Linked DNA regions of Homo sapiens: region 2 is linked to region 1. Evidence: fine-mapped expression QTL. A gene starts in region 1. The other region holds a variant in brackets. All regions are shown on one strand. Distances are from middle to middle.

Evidence for each region. PIP is the estimated chance that this variant, and not a neighbour inherited with it, causes the effect.
Region 2: its variant is fine-mapped to the expression of AAK1 in whole blood (TOPMed, PIP above 0.99).

Annotation. Positions count from the first base shown.
Region 1 is chr2:69,639,592-69,647,926 of GRCh38, forward strand. It overlaps AAK1 (AP2 associated kinase 1), which reads right to left and starts at 4,148. Exons shown (of 22, transcript NM_014911.5): 1 at 3,984-4,148; 2 at 3,287-3,683. The coding sequence starts at 3,449. It also overlaps a transcript of ANXA4 not described here. RefSeq lists a silencer at 3,897-4,226 and enhancers at 4,307-4,576, 5,332-5,934.
Region 2 is chr2:69,689,601-69,697,935 of GRCh38, forward strand. It overlaps a transcript of ANXA4 not described here. Among named protein-coding and RNA genes, the nearest start is that of ANXA4, 48 kb to the right of the region's middle. The variant CA/C (reference allele first, on the strand shown) is at 4,715.

The sequences.
Region 1 (8,335 bases):
TTGTCTTACCCAGCACCTGCTCCTTGGGGTTCTTGCAATTCCTTATGAAAAAGCACAGACCAATACCCACGCTAGAGAAAAAGAGATCATCAGCGGAATGTGGTGGTAATCTGGTCTGTGTTTTGAAGCCTCTCACACCACTCCTCCCTAAACTGCCTAGCCACCGCTCTGGGCACACAGGGTACAACTCCTGTGGTCCTTAAACAACTCTGGCTAGAACTGTAGATAAGTCAGCACTCGGGGACTCACAGAGAAGAGAGTCCAGGGAAGGAGCATGGCTACCCAAAACGTCTGTTAAGCCTTTAAGGAGCTGGTGAGGACTCTGCAAAGAACATCTGGCTCTGTCCCCTAACAATGGGGGAAAGGAATTGCTTCAGATTGCTGCAGCTCAACTAGCTTTCACATTGCTCCCACTCCCCTTTAACACACACACACACACACACACACACACACACACACACACTCTCTCTCTCTCTCTCTCTCTCTCTCCCCCCCCACATATATACATATGATGTATAACGTTGCTGGTAAGTAATGGCTACCATTTATTGAACACCTGAAAATGTTAATTATATATATTGCCTCATTTAATCTTCATGACCAGCCCATTAAGCAGTGGTTCTCAAACTTGACCTTGCGTCAGAATCTCTCCAGGAACTTATTAAGCCCCACACCCACAGCCTACAGAGTGAGGCCTGAGAATCTCCATTTCCAACAAGCTCGCAGGTGATAAGTATGCCCCACTTTGAGAACCACTGCCACAGGGAAACAGAGATTCAAGAGTGGTTTGGAATGTCTTGCCTACAGTTCCACAGCTAGTAAAGAACAGATCCAGAATTTGAACCTAGATCTGTCTGACTCTACAGACAGTGCTGGTAACCATGCTACTGTATGTGTGAATGTATGCCTCATCTTCCCAAATTCATTGGCAGATCCTTAAAGGCAGATGTCAATCACACTATAGACCTCCCTCATCCATCTCAGAACTTCATAGGGTCTTTGGACTTGGTAGGTGCTACATAAATACTTTGTATACTGGCTCCTACATATCTACATACTTCTAAGAGCCACAAATTCAAACTCAACTTAAGCCAAAGAACACAAAAAGGGCGCATAGCCAGACCCAGTTTTACGTGACATTCTCTCTCGCTACTCTGTCTTTGCCCATGGTGCCACCACACTAACTCCTACTCACTCTTCAGTCACTTCCTTCAGAAATCCTGGGCTCCCTAAAACTGGGGGCCACTGCACCCTAAGTTTATCTCTATGATGGCATTTACCAATCCACTATAACTGGCTATTTTCCATCTCTTAAAGCAGTTGGTAAAAGCTAGCATCTAGTTTAACAGTATACCCCCAGAGCCTAGCACAGCACCTGGCACTTCACAGGCAACTCCATAAACTGTTGAATGAATAAATGCAGAGCTACAAGTCCTAAATTCTGTGTAAAAATATCACAATACGTGATGCGCAGTTCTCAAAGATGAATCCCAGAGAAGAGGAAGGCAGCCTAGGTAACAAAGACCAATTTTGCCTTTTCTTTTCCCTATCACTTCTCTCACACTTGGAGAACATGCACCGCTTAGGGCAGCATCATCCGTGATGAGACAACATCCTAGCTGAACAAAACGCTCGTGGGCTATAAGGTCAGCAGAGGCCATTCAGAGGGGAGGAAAGTGTTCTGTGGCCCTTCGTTTCTCCTGATTTCTCTCTGACACACTCTCCTTTTCACTGTTTCTCCACCCCACTGCAGTTAAGGGCTTTGGCACAGGGATGAAAGAGACAGATCAGACTCAAGGGTGCGGATCTGGCAGCGGGCACAGAAGCATCTCCTAGCCTGCACCAAAGTCCACGGGAAAGATCCAAGGGGACAGTGACTCTGGCCCCAGATAAAGCGCAGCTAGAACAGTACTGAGATTGGAAGAGCAATAATTTCACATGGACATTAACTGTCAGAGATCTTTTTTAAAAATCATGTTTTTAAAGTACAGACTTCAACTCTATTCCCAGAAAACTGGGCCCTGCTGAATCCAGTGCTTACACAAGCTGAGAGCCAAACACAGCTTCTTCCTCTTCCAAACCCACCCACCAGCCCGCAACATCCACCATGGTAAGCATTTCCCAGGCCCAGGTCAGGACCCTTGCTTCAACTTTAGCTTGCAAAAGGCCCCTTTTTAAAGAGGCCTCTTAGCTTTCTCTCTTCCCTTGCTAATAAAACTGTTCCCTACCATCACCATGTTGCAGTAAGAGAGACCTCTCCCTTCTTCCAACCCCTCTCGGTCTATAACACAACCTACAGCAGGTTGGCCCCATCCAATCAGTCTGAATTGCTTCATGCCAAGGAAATTGCTGCTTTTATTAAAAATAAAAGCACACTAGGCAGGCGAAGGGCTGTGAAAAGTATGAGTCTGGCATAATTATGAAGGTCGAGGTTAAGGTTACCAAAAGAGACATGCAAAGATTTCCCGAAAGCCTGGGGGAATCAAGATGTATATCTACGTGAGTATAGACACACAGATGAAACACAGAGGGAATTTATGCAGCAGATCTAAATAACATCCTCTCTGATAGCGAAAAAACAAAATCAGAGCCACTCTCAAGTAATTTTTCTTTTGATTAAAAAAACAAAAAACAAAACCTAAAGCGAGAAGGAAGAGGGGCCTACTAGACTGAGTTCAAAATAACCACATTTGTTTTATGTAATTTCTGTTATCTTTGCTATAACCTGGGGACCTGATTACAGTTGGGTCAGGAAACAAATCTACTAGTGAAATCCACCAAGAGCCTTGGCCCTTGGAAAAACACGTTCACGTTCTCCGAAAATCCTCTCTTCCTTCCAATGCCTGCTCATGGAAGTGGGAAAGTTGGGTAGGAGAAGGAGAAACCCCTCTCTTCTTAAAAGTCCCCCCACCCTTCAGCCTTCACATCAAGATTTTAAGTTTTAGGAGGATGACAAGCCCATCACCCTGCCTTTGGCATAAAGCTTTACACTTTCACACATACGTTTTCTTGTGTGATCCTCAAAATTTGGCTTCTCAATATTAAAAAAATAAAAATAAAAGGCCACTAACGTAAACAATTTCGGCAACCTCCCCACACCCCCATAAGCCCAGTCACTTTCAAATCTCAATTTTAAATCTCTCAAGGACAATGACTCACAGGGCAAGTGAAGGGGGAAGGGAGGGTCAACTGGTCAAAGCCCATTCATACATGCAACAACTAGAAACCACAGTATTGCCGCATCAGCACAAGATTTTAATTTACGGCGCATTGAGCCCCACCGTACCTTCCGCCAACACCTCGTCCACTGTGACCTGCTGTCGCCCGATGCCGAAGACTCTTCCGATGTAGCCACTGCCCAGGCCCGAGGTGCTGCCCCCTCCTCCGCTGGAGCCGGAGCCCAGGCCAGAGCCGCCCTGCTCTCGCCGGGAGTCGAAAAACTTCTTCATCTTGCGAATAGGGAGCAGCAAAGCAAAATACCGATGGTTTCTAGATTTTTTTTTTTTTTTTTTTTTTTTAAGAAAAGAGATCCAAGGATTTCTTCTCAGATTTCACCTCGGAGAGGAGCCACCCGAATCCGGCCGTGGGGGTGGGGGCTGAGGGAGGATGCCTATAGGAATATGCGTGTCAATCGCGCAGCGGGTCCCCTCCTCCTCCAGAAAGCGATTCGTGTAAGTTTAAACCTGTGATGACAGAGGAAGAAAGAGAGGATGAATCAGTAACACGCTTAAAAATTCAACCGCTGAGTCCTAGGGGGAGCAAAAGCCATCATCCTGGGGAAACGCTTCATGTATTTTCCCGGCGAGAAAAACCGTGGGGCTGAAAACGCGACCCCGGCCCCAGAACCCGGGACCCCCGAGCCGGGAGCTCGGAGAAAGGAGGGATCCGAGCTGCTCCGGCAGCGCCGACCCTCCCGGGCACTGCCTCCCGCTCCTCCCGGGTCTCCCCGCCGCCCCTCGAGGCGGCATCCTGGCAGCACCCACTTGAGACGGCTCGGCGGCCGGCGCCCTGCTACCAGCCCCGCGACATTGTCACGGCCGCCGGGCCGGCCTGCGACGCAGAGAAGAGGCGGCGCTGCAGCGAGAGCCGGGGCCGCGCTCGGCTCCCGCCCGCCCGCCAGCTGATCCCGGGAGCGCCGGGCGGAGACTGACCCGCCGCCCCTCCCCCGCGCGCGCTCCCGCCCGGCTCCATCCACCCAACCAGGAAGTGAACCGCCGCCGGAAGTGCCCCTCGGGGCGGCGCGGCGAGGGACCGGGGCCTCTCCTGCAACCGCCGTTCTGTCGCCACGGATGGGAAGGAGTCGACCGCGAGAAGAGGACTGGGGGAAGAGGGTCTCAGTGCAGACAGAGTTCTGGAAAAGACTGTTGATATCACCCGAGCCGCAGGGCAAGCTGGGAAAGGTAGCTCGGCACAGTCCGGCTGCTGGACTACAAATCCCAGCATACTCCTGGAGGAGAGGGCGAGGCGGCAGCCGTGTGGCCTCCACGGCCTCGAAGGAGATTTGTGGGGTGGCGCGTATGTGGGGACTCGGCAATTTAAACACATCCCGTGAAGAAACTGCCAACAACTAAGTTCCCCCCCCCCCCCCCCCGCTGTATGTTCCACCCTTCTGGAGCCATCTTATTTGCGGCCTGGCCTCCTGGCACAAGGGATTCTGGAGGTTGTGGTTTCCGAACGGATCGAGACTGACACCTGAAGGACGCGGCTTAACCGCTTAGCCCCTAGCGGGTCCTGTGGGTTTCCCGACGTCTCCTGGGCTGAAATGGAAGCGAGAAGTGATCGGGAACATTGTGCTGGCAGTTGGATCCGGCTGCACCGAGCGCCAGCCTTGAAATAAGTAAAACCGATGCCCTTCCGCCCCTAACCTCAAAAGCTGCTTTTGCGTCTCGATGTTATTGAGAGCCGGCTCTGCGGTCAGCTCTGAGCTAGGCGCTGTGAGAACGCTCAGTAAGACAGTGTCTCGTCTGGAAATGTACAGGCGAGATTCAAACCGAGAAACTGCCAAAGGTTGTGTGCAGGGCAGATCCTAGGATACCGGAGACCCAGCCCGTTGGCTTGACCTCAAAACTCGGGGGCTTTTCGGCCCATGCTGTCCCTTAATTCCTCCTCCTTTGCTGACGCTGTGGGTGCGCATCAAAGCCTAAACTTCACTAGCTCCCTTGCACACAAGAACACTAACCCTAACCTGACCAGTTATTTATTTTTCACTTCAAGATTCTTCCATTGATACTTACGTTTCCCTGATACCGTCCAAGTGCTGAGGGCGGGGATGGACTGTGTGATTTGCATCTGCCAAATGCAGAAAATTTGGAAGGTCAGTTGGTACACTTTTCCGACCTAGATTTCCTGATGGATGATGCTGAAGAGTGGCAAGTTGCTGCCAAAAACAAACAAAAAAACCTACCATGATTTATTAATATTATTTTTCTAACCCCTGAATATGGGTTATTGTTCATCTCTGCCCGCTTTCCCCACTCCCTAGTGCTTGTCTCAGAATTTTTTTTTCAGCGGGTATTTGAGTAGAGAAGGGTGTCCCAGGGAAAAAAATGGTTCTTGCTTTCTCTAATCTGAATATTGAGCTGAGCTGTGACTGGGTTAACAGTAGCGTTTGTTGTTGCTGCTGCTGCAGCTTGTTTCAAGTAGTGCCATTGTAATTAAACTCCGTGAAGAGATAGCATCTTTTCTTCCGGAGAGAGTCAGTGTTGTCACCTCAGTTCACGAATTCATGTAGCCACCTCCAGGGTGAAATGCAGCCCCTATTCCCTCAAACTAAGCCCACGAAGGCATGTTCTCTGCACTTTCCTTAAAAGGCCAGATTTTTGTCTGAGGAAGTTTGAAGCAGATCTTAAAATAGATGAGAAAGCTCATTTGGAATTAGACTCATTGACCCCCATTTCTCTCAGCACTTATTTGTCTTGACTGACTTTTTTAAACAAGCTGTGCTAGGTCCTAAAATCAATCTGATGCTATCTCAGTTTTTACCTTTCTAGACTTCTCTGGTACCAGACTAGTCCAGGCTTACACAAATCTCAAGTCTTACTTCAGTGATACAAAAACTCCCAATATGCTTAAGGTAGCTAACATGCATTTATTTAACACCCACGTGAATGCTCTGATCAGAAGCTGAGGGAAGAGGTTTAAAAAACAAAAAACATGACTAGATTCCTTGCCCTCCATTCCCTCACAGACTAATAGCAATTATAATGACAAATCCACAGTTTTTCATGCTTTACATATATTAAGTATATAATGCTCACAACCACCCTATGAAGTAAAGTACCATTATTATACTCATTTTATAGGTGGGTAAGTAAAGCAAAGAGATTAGTGACTTGCCCAAAGTCACACAGTAAATAGCAAAGCCAGGATTCAAACCCAAACATTTTAGTTTCAAAGCCCAGTTCTTACCTGGCTATACTAAACTGTCTACTTAGAGAGAGCAAACATTAACTGATTAAAAGACTCGTGAATAGTTAGAAACCCACGCACAAGCAGCATAGGACCAGGAGACAGGAAACCTCTTGCCACTTCATAGCTGGGATCCTAGACCACTTGTGTCACTGGGCTTATTATCTCAGCTATAAAACCAGAGCTCTTACAACTCTTAGTAATTTTTTAGTTCCTGAGTACAAAATAATGAACAGATCAGCCACTATAATCTCAAAACTATCACACTTTCTGTATAATTTGTCCCATGCTGCTTTGCATTCCTGTTCAACTTTTAATGTATATTGCTGTCTCAACCAAACACCTCAAAGCCAGAGAACCATCTTCTACTTATCTCCTTGGGCATCCAGTATAATAGTTTACATAGAGTGTGTTCTTAGCAGTACTTAAAGTAAATAATTTACTTTAAATGTGACACAAAACAGAGCTATCTGATTAAGGTGGAAAGATTGATTTGAAGTATCCTAGATGAATTTTGAACTAGGTGTGGAAGATGCTATGGGTAAATAGTCAAAGGGAGTGGGAAAAGAAAGTGCCATTTACTATTGTTACAATAGTGATCATATGACCGATGGAACAGACTCTTTGAGGCAATAAGATGCCAAATTATAAACAAGACCTAAGGCTGTGTCAGGCAAGGGTTAAGTCACACATCCCTACACTTGAAGAGTAAACCATCTTCTAACTGCCACAAGGTTTTTCTTTTTCTCTGGTAGCTAAATAGACACTGGCCTGGAGATAAGCAATATTGAATCAATTGTAGCTCACTGACCACTAGATGCTGACTAACTGTATCCCCCCAACCCCTGTTCCACAAACCATAACTATTTCTTTGATTGGACAAGAGACTGATTTCAGTAACATCCTAGTAAGAGACTACCAACCACAGACTGGTTCTGGCTGGTTTTCAGAGGCTGTGCACTGAGTGTCTTCATGTCCTTTGCTTCACCTAATTGTAATGCATTTAAATGTTAAATCTCCACCCCAAAGAGAACATAGGACATATGTAACATGCATGTTTGCTCACTATGCATGCATGTGCTGCCCCCCGCTTTGTGAATAATCAAAGCTCCTGTAACTTAAGTGTGTATTCTTAGCCAACTCATTTGGCATAAATTTGTGTTCCACTTTTTCCTCCCTCTAAATACCTGCTTTCAGTCTCTGCCAGAGTCTACACTTCCCAGCCTGTCAGGATCACCAGCCTGCAGGCTGCAACCCTTTATAAAAAGTAAAGCTCCCCTCTCCAAATTTATAAACCTTGGGATTCTTCAGTTAACACTATGTATCTTCCATATGCCAGTTATGGAATTTAAAAAATATATATATATTGTTTTATTGTTTTATTTTTATTTTATTTATTTATTTATTTATTTATTTATTTATTTTTTGAGACAGAGTCTCACTCTGTAGCTCAAGTTGTAGTGCAGTGGCGTGATCTCGTCTCACTGCAACCTCTGCCTCCCAGGCTCCAGCGATTCTTGTGCCTCAGCCTCCCGAGTAGCGGGGACTACAGGTGTGTGCCACCATGCCTGGCTAATTTTTTGTATTTTAGTAGAGACAGGGTTTCACCATGTTGCCCAGGGTGGTCTTGAACTCCTGAGCTCAGGCCATCCACCCACCTTGGCCTCCCAAAATGCTGGGATTACAGGCATGAGCCACCACGCCCAGCCACTTTTTAAAAAAAATAATTATATAAAAAATAGAGATGGGGTCTTGCTTTGTTGCCCAGGCTGACCTCAAACTCCTGGACTCAGGTGATCCTCCCACCTCAGCCTCCCAAAGTGCTGAGATTACAGATGTGAGCCACCGTGCCTGACTGATATTATTTTATTTAATCTTCATGGTTGCCTACAAAGTAGACAGTATTATCTATTTTATCAAAGAAAAT
Region 2 (8,335 bases), 50 kb after region 1:
TATGTAGTTCTTTTTGGTTTTATGGCGTATCATAATAATGAAAATCAAATTAAAGTCACTTGAAGTAGTTCCTTCCTGTGTGGTTATTCCGCCAACTCAGAGTGTACATTTCAGTTCATTTGTTTCATTTTGGTTTTGTTTCATAGGGATTGCTTTTCAATTAAAAATATTTTATAATTATGTAAAATGATTACAAATTTCTAAAGTCAAATCTACAACAGCAGGCATATTCAGAGGAGTGTGACTTCTATCCCAGTCCCTCTACCCTATCTACTTCCCAACAAAGTCTTTTTTAAGAAATAAAGTTTTATGGCATATTCTCTCATTAAAAAAATAAGGAAACATTTTCATATATCAAATTCTCTCTTTTTAGATAAACAGTAGCATACTATAGACAATTTTTTCTACCTTGTTTTGTTTTCACTAGCCATAAAGTCTAAGGATCACTCCATATATTCCTCGTTCTTTTTTACAGCTGTGTAGTACTCTGCCATGTGAACTGTGCATAGTATTATTTGGATGTTAAACACATTTAATCAAAATTAAAATTTAAGGAAATTTTAGCATGGTCAGCTGAAATAGAATTCAGGTGTCTCTCAAAATTTGTCCTCCCACCTATTTATTTGTTTTATTTTTGTTTATTTATTTATTTATTTGAGACAGAGTCTCACTCTGTTGCCCAGGCTGGAGTGCAGTTGTGCTATCTCGACTCACTGCAGCCTCCACCTCCTGGGATCAAGTGATTCTCCTGCCTCAGCCTCCCAAGTAGCTGGGATTACAGGCACGCACCACCATCCCTGGCTAATTTTTGTATTTTTAGTAGAGACGGTGTTTCACCATGTTGACCAGACTGGTCTTGAACTCCTGACCTCAAGTGATCCACCCACCTCAGCCTCCCAAAGTGCTGGGATTACAGGCATGAGCCACTGCGCCCGGCCCAGTCTTTTCATCTACTTAGTGGCTCCACCCTGTTTTTGCAGTTCCTACACACTTACCCCTGGGATACCCTCTCCAGCCTGAGCAAAGGTTCTACATTTTTCAAATGATTTTCAGACATCTAAGATTAGCCCTTTATTGGTCCAACCCCTTGAAACCTTATTCCTTTTTAGGTGACAATGCATGCTGAGGAGTTCATTTAAAGGTAATTTCTGCAAAACCTTTACCCATCACATGCCATCTCTCCTGAGTAACAAGAGGCCTTGATCTCAAACTCCACATATGCCAGGGCATCACCGGTTGCTCTATTAAGCACCATGTTTCAGTGCCTTAGTACTGTTTGTAAAACAAAGCAACTAATAATCAGAATTTATCCTGGGATCTTATTGGGAAGAAACATCCTGAAATAACCAAGAAATAACAATAATGGTAAATCATATGTATAAATGAATTCTAGAGATGAAGGCTGTGGCAACAGTCTTTCTTTCCTTTTAATATTCCTTATGTGGGTAGCAGAAATATCAAGTTTGCAAATACTCTGCCTGGGAGAACCGCCACTTGTACCTTTCTCTTTCTGGTACAGTCTTTTTTTTTTTTTCTTTTTTTAAACGGAGCCTCTCTTTGTCATCCAGGCTGGAGTGCAGTGGTGCTATCTCGGCTCACTGCAACCTCTGCCTCCCAGGTTCAAGTGATTCTCCTGCCTCAGCCTCTCAAGTAACTGAGATTACAGGCGCCCACTTCCATGCCCAGCTAATTTTTGTATTTTTAGTAGAGACGGGGTTTCACCATGTTGGCCTCGAACTCCTGACCTCAAGTAATCCACCCGCCTTGACCTCCCAAAGTGCTGGGATTACAGGGATGAGCCACTGCTCCTAGCCCCTGGTACAGTCTTTACACTGAAAAACGGATGCACCTACCACAGTATAAAGATGGGAGTTTACTTTGGAGACAGAAGACAGGAATGAACTGCATCAAAATGATAGGCTCAGAGTTAAAAATATGAGAACCGTCAGTGATTTCACACACACACACACATGCACACACACACACACACACACACACAGACGCATGCACATATGCATGCCTATAGCTTATTTCTTTAGAAACTAGCCACAGAACCCATTGAAACCCAGAGAGCTGTGGAACACAATTAGAAAAGGCCTGGGACAGGAGGGCTGGAGTGAGCCTTCTGAGCAGCCCAGACCTCACATTAGCAGGACAGAAGTTAGCAGCGTAGAAGCAGCTGGCAGGACTAGAGCTGCCTAGCCATTATAGCTGGGTTTCCTGGCATCTGTCTTGAAGGGAAGGGGGATTGGTTACTATTCAGTAACTTCAGGTTTTTTGTTTTTTGTGTGTTTGTTTGTTTTGAGACTGAGTCTCACTCTGTCACCCAGGCTGGAGTGCAGTGGCGTGATCTTGGCTCACTACAACCTCCGCCTCCCGGGTTCAAACGATTCTCCCGCCTCAGCCTCCCAAGTAGCTGGGATTACAGGCACTTGCCATCATACCTGGCTAATTTTTGTATTTTTGTAGAGACAGGGTTTCACCATGTTGTCCAGGCTGGTCTTGAACTCCTGACCTCAGGTGATCCACCCACCTCGGCCTCCCAAAGTGCTGGGATTACAGGCGTGAGCCACCGCGCCCAGACAACTCTTCATTTTTTTAAAGAAAATTTCAGAAGATTGCCTCAGGTGAAACCACAGTAAGGAGATCTAACATATGGCATTATAAAATATGAATTTGGGCATGATGATATGCATTATGCAATTTACCATGACATTTATAAAGTCAAGGGATTTAGGCCTAGAAGTGTCCATGAAAGATTCAATGCTTTAGGTCTTCATTTATTTGTTTGTGCTGTGCACTTGGTTTGGAATTCCCTTTCCCTGTATCATTTCATCCTAATGAACGCCTACTTATTTTTTAAGACTCAATGCTATTACCTCCTCTATAGTTCCATAACAGTATATATATTTCCTGTAACAATATTATGTTGTATTATAATTGTTTGCATATTGCCTGTTTTCTACTAGGCTGTCAGTTCTTTTGGGAGAGGAGCCCAGTCTTCATACCTCAGTGACTAACTTAAAAGACACTTGATGTTTATTAAGTGATGTCAGAGACCAACTAATCCAGTTCCTCTAAGTAGATGAAACTGAGGCCCAAAGGATTTCCATAAATTCAGTAATTCCACAAGTATATACTGAGTATTTACAATGTGCCTAGCGCTAGGTAAGGCTAAATGTCTTTAGTGTATTTTAAATATCATTTGGAGTATGCTTAATTTCCATTTGTCCAGAGATCAAAAGATAAATGCCAGCATCTCATGAATCCTCAAAGCAATATTGAATTATGTTCAGAATTGGTTTATATCAATTTATTTTATTGTACTCTAAGTGTGTATCACCCAAGAATGCAATCTGCATACTGCTAATGTGTGTGTGTGAGGTGGGGGAGGGATGGTCAGAGTGTTCAATGCCCAATATAATGCCCAATTTAGGAAACACTGGGTTATATTAGGTTAAATAGATTCTTCCCTGAACTTTCAACATGCTTGATAGTGACTAGTTAAATCTCCAAGAAGAGCATCTAATATGCACTGTTTCCCAAATTTATTTGCCTAGTGAACCTCCCCTTTTTTGTTGCTCCTATTAATAGCTGCCTGCAATGCAGTTCGGAAGAACATAGAGTTGGTCGGTGCAGTTCTTTGAAGAGTCCTCATCTGTGTTTAGTGAGGACTTCAAAGGGAAACTGTAAGCTCCCTGGGGAGGAAAGTGGATGGAAGGGGAGAAGGGAAGGCCGGAGAAGGAGCAGCTAACCAGGAAGACACGGGAGGTAGCAGGTCACTGTCTAGGGTCTAAGAGAGGGACAGGGGCCATAAGCAGACAACTGAGGAGCATGTTTCCATGCTAAGCTCAGTGAGACATTTGGGGCTCAAGCAGATGGGCTTTGGGGTCAAGAGATAAGGTGTTTCACAAGGAGAGCCAGGAGCACTTCTGCAGGAACATGCAGCATGTCTTCAGGCCTCTGGGGATTCCAGAGGACATGGCACCCTGCCTGCAGGTCCCCAAGGACTGCCACATGTCAGGGCCACAGTGTCTGTGGGGACAGGAGAGGAAGGAAATGAAGCAGGCACAAAGTAGGTTACTGAGTGGTTTCATCAACATCTGTGACACCCACTCCCAGGGGGTTCCTGGACATATTTGGGGTTAGGTTTAACAAGGGGCAGTAGCTATGGGGAACAATATTTGCAGGGCCCAATGCAAAATGACAACACAGGCCCCTTGTTTAGAGTTAAGAATTTCATGATTGTGACAGCTGAGCATTAAACCAAGCACCAGGCCCTTCTGAATGCAGACCTCTGGACAACTGTACAGGTTGCACACCCATGAAGCTGCCAGAGAGTTCTCAGTGGTCCTAAAGCCCACTTGAATCTCCTGGCTACTGTGGCCTGGAGAAACCAGGTTACGCATGGTTTATATAAAAAGTTGGTCTCCCTATTCCAACGTATCTGATTATCATGGAAACACTGTTTACCAGTTGCTATGGTCTGAATGTTTGTGTCTCCCCTCAACCCCTGCAACATTCATATTTAATCCCCAATGCAGTAGTATTAAGAAGTGGTGCCTTAGGAAGTGATGAGGTCCTAAAGTGAATGGGGTGAATGGGATTACTGCCCTGTGAGAGAGAACCAAGGGCGCTTGTTTGCCCCTTCCACAATGTGAGAACGCAGCAGGAAGATATCCTGTGAAGCAGAAAGTAAGCCCTCACCAGATAC[CA/C]CATCCGTTGGTGCCTTGACTTTGATCCAGAACAGTAAACAATACATTTCTTTTTTTTTTTTAATTATACTTTAAGTTTTAGGGTACATGTGCACATCGTGCAGGTTTGTTACATATGTATACCTGTGCCATGTTGGTGTGCTGAACCCATTAACTCGTCATTTAGCATTAGGTATATCTCCTAATGCTATCCCTCCCCCCTCCCCCCTCCCCCCACCCCACAACAGTCCCCGGTGTGTGATGTTCCCCTTCCTGTGTCCATGTGTTCTCATTGTTCAATTCCCACCTATGAGTGAGAACATGTGGTGTTTGGTTTTTTGTCCTTGCGATAGTTTGCTGAGAATGATGGTTTCCAGCATCATAACAATACATTTCTATGGTTTATAAAATACCCAGTCTATGGCAGCTCAGATGGACTAAGACACCAGTCATTCTGGGTAAACTTTGTTGTAAGATAAATTTATTTATTTATTGTTAAATTTTAAATATTTTCAGAGAGGGGGTCTTGCTATGTTGCCCAGGCTGGTCTCAAACTGCTGGGTTCAAGTGATCCACCTGCCTTGGCCTCCCAAAGTGCTGGGATTACAGGCGTAAGCCACCATGCCCAGGCTGTTATAAGATAAATTTAACCAGCCTAGGCAACATGGCGAAACCTCGTCTCTACAAAAAGTACAAAAATTAGCCGGCATGGTGGTGCATGCCTGCAGCCCCAGCTACTCAGGAGGCTGAGAGGTGGGAGTATCACTTGAGCCCAGGAGGTCGAGGTTGCAGAAAGCCATGATTGCGCCACTGCACTCCAGCTTGGGTGACAGAGCAAGACTCTGTCTCAAAAAAGAAAAAAAAAAAGTACACATTAAATTCCAGGAACATATTTAATGCAGAAATCCAGGCACATTCAAGCTATTTCCATATATAGTACTCACACCATAAACAGCATCCATTCTCCTCACGCTGAGAATCAAGGCAGATTTGCAGCTGCATTGCAGACGAGTATAACCTTTGACTTTGTCCTGGGGTTCATACCAGTATTCATTTGGTGCTGAGGCAGCACTCAGCACCCGTGCTGATTTCCCTCAAAAATGAAAAACAAACTCAGGTGGAAAATCTGGGCATGCAATGTCATTTGCTATTTTTGGAGATGAGGGAGAAAAAAGAAGTTGTGGAAAGTGTTGTAATAAGCAGCATAGAACAGCAGCCCATGAGTGTGAAATAAAACAACACCCGCATGCTCTTCTTGACAGTGATTGAATGGAAGCAACGAAGTGGAGGAGAAACCACGCTGGGGAGAGCTGGCATCCCCTTGGGAGAAGCCTTTCCAACAGTGGACTGAAAGCATGAGTTACCTTACCCTGTAAGATTAATCTCCAACCAAACAGCAATCTTACCTCTGAGATACAGGCATACCTCAGAGTTTATGTGGGTTTCAATCCCAACCACTGCAATAAAGCAAATATTTGGAATAAGTGAGTCACACAGATTTTTTGGTTCCCAGTGCATAGAAAGGTTATGTTTATACTATACTGCAGTCTATGAAGTGTGCAATAGCATTACGTCTTAAAAAAGTATATACCTTAATTTAAAAATACTTTTTTGCTAAAAAAAAATGTTAACAGTCATCTGAGCCTTTAGTGAGTTGAAATCTTTTTGCTAGTGGAGGATCTCATCTCAACACTGGTGACTGCTGACTGATCAGGGTGGTGGTTGCTGAAGGTTGGGTGGCTGTGGCAATTTCTTAAAATAATACAATGAAATTTGCCGCATTTATTGACTCTTCCTCTCACAAAAGATTTCTCTGTATTGTGAGATGCTGTTTGATAGCATTTTGCCCACAGGAGAACTCCTTTCAAAATTGGATTCCATCCTCTCAAACCCTTAGTTGATGCTTTATCAACTAAGTTTATGGAACATTCTCAATCGTTTCTTGTCATTTCAACACTGCTCACAGCACCTTCACCAGAAGCAGCTTCCATCTCAAGAAATCACTTTCTTTGCTCATCCACAGAAAGCAATTTCTCATCTGTTCAAGTTTAATCATGAGATTGCAGCAATTCAGTCACATCTCCAGGTACCACTTCTAATTCCAGTTCTCTTGCTATTTTCACCACATCTGCAGTGACTTGCTCCATTGAAGTCTCAGACCCCACAGTCATCCACGAGAGTTAAAATCAGCTTCCTCCAAACTCTGTTGATGTTGATAGTTTGCCCTTCTCTCATGAATCATGAGTATTTATAATAACATCTAAAATGGTGAATCCTTTCCAGAAGGTTTTCAATTTACTTTGCCCAGATCCATCAGAGGAATCACTATCTATGGCAGCTACAGCCTTACAAATGTATTTCTTAAATAACAAGACTTGAAAGTCAAAAATCACTCCTTGATCCATGGGCTACAGAATGGATGTTGTGTTAGCAGGCATGAAAACAACATTCAGCTCCTTGTACATCTCCATCAGAGTTCTTGGGTGACTAGGTGCATTGTCAAGAAGCAGTAATATATTAAAAAGGAATCTTTTTTATTTTTTGAGTAGTAAGTCTCAACAGCAGGCTTAAATTATTCAGTAAACCATGCTATAAACAGATGTGCTGTCATCCAGGCTTTGTTGCTCCATTTATACAGCACTGGCAGAGTAGATTTAGCATAATACTTAAGGGTCCTAGGATTTCCAGAATGGTAAATGAGCACCATGTTCAACTTAAAGTCACCAGCTGCATTAGTCCCTAACAAGAGAGTCGCCTGTCCTTTGAAGCTAGGCATTGACTTCTCTCTAGCTACGAAAGTCCTAGATGGCATCTTCTTCTAGTAGAAGGCTGTTTCATCTCCATCGAAAATCTATTGTTCAGTGTAGCCACCTTCATCTATGATCTTAGCTAGATCTTCTGGATAACTTGCTGCAGCTTCTCCATCAGCACTTGCCTCTTCACCTTGCACTTTTATGTTATAGAGATGGCTTCTTGCCTTAAATCTCATGAAGCAACCTCTGCTAGCCTCAGACTTTTGTTCTGCAGCTTCCTTACGTCTCCCAGCCTTCGCAGGATTGAAAAGAGTTTAGTGCCTTGTTCTAGGCTAGGCTTTGGATGAAGGGAATGTTGTTGCTGGTTTGATCTTCTATCCAGCTCACTGAAACTTTCTCCGTATCAATGCTGTTTCGCTTTCTTATCATACTTGTGTTCACTGGAGTAGCACTTTTAATTTCCTTCAAGAATTTTTCCTTTGCATTCACAACTTGGCTATCTGTTTGGCACAAGAAGCCTAGCTTTTGGCCTGTCTCAGCTTTTGACACACCTTGCTTACTAAGCTTAATCATTTCTAGCTTCGGATTCAAAAATGAGAGATGCACATGATTCTTCCTTTCACTTGAACACTGAGAGGCCATCGTAGGGTTGTTAATTGGCCTAATGTCAATATTGTTGTGTCTGAGCAGTGGAGCAGTCAGTATATAACATTTATTAATTAAGCTTGCTATTCTGTATGGGCACAGTTTATGGTGCCCTAAACATTAACAATGGTAACATCAAAGATACCTGGGGCCAGGTGTGGTGGCTCAGGGACTGGGCAAAGTGGTTCATTCCTATAACCTGAGCACTTTGAAAGGCTGAGATGGGAGGATCTCTTAAGCCCA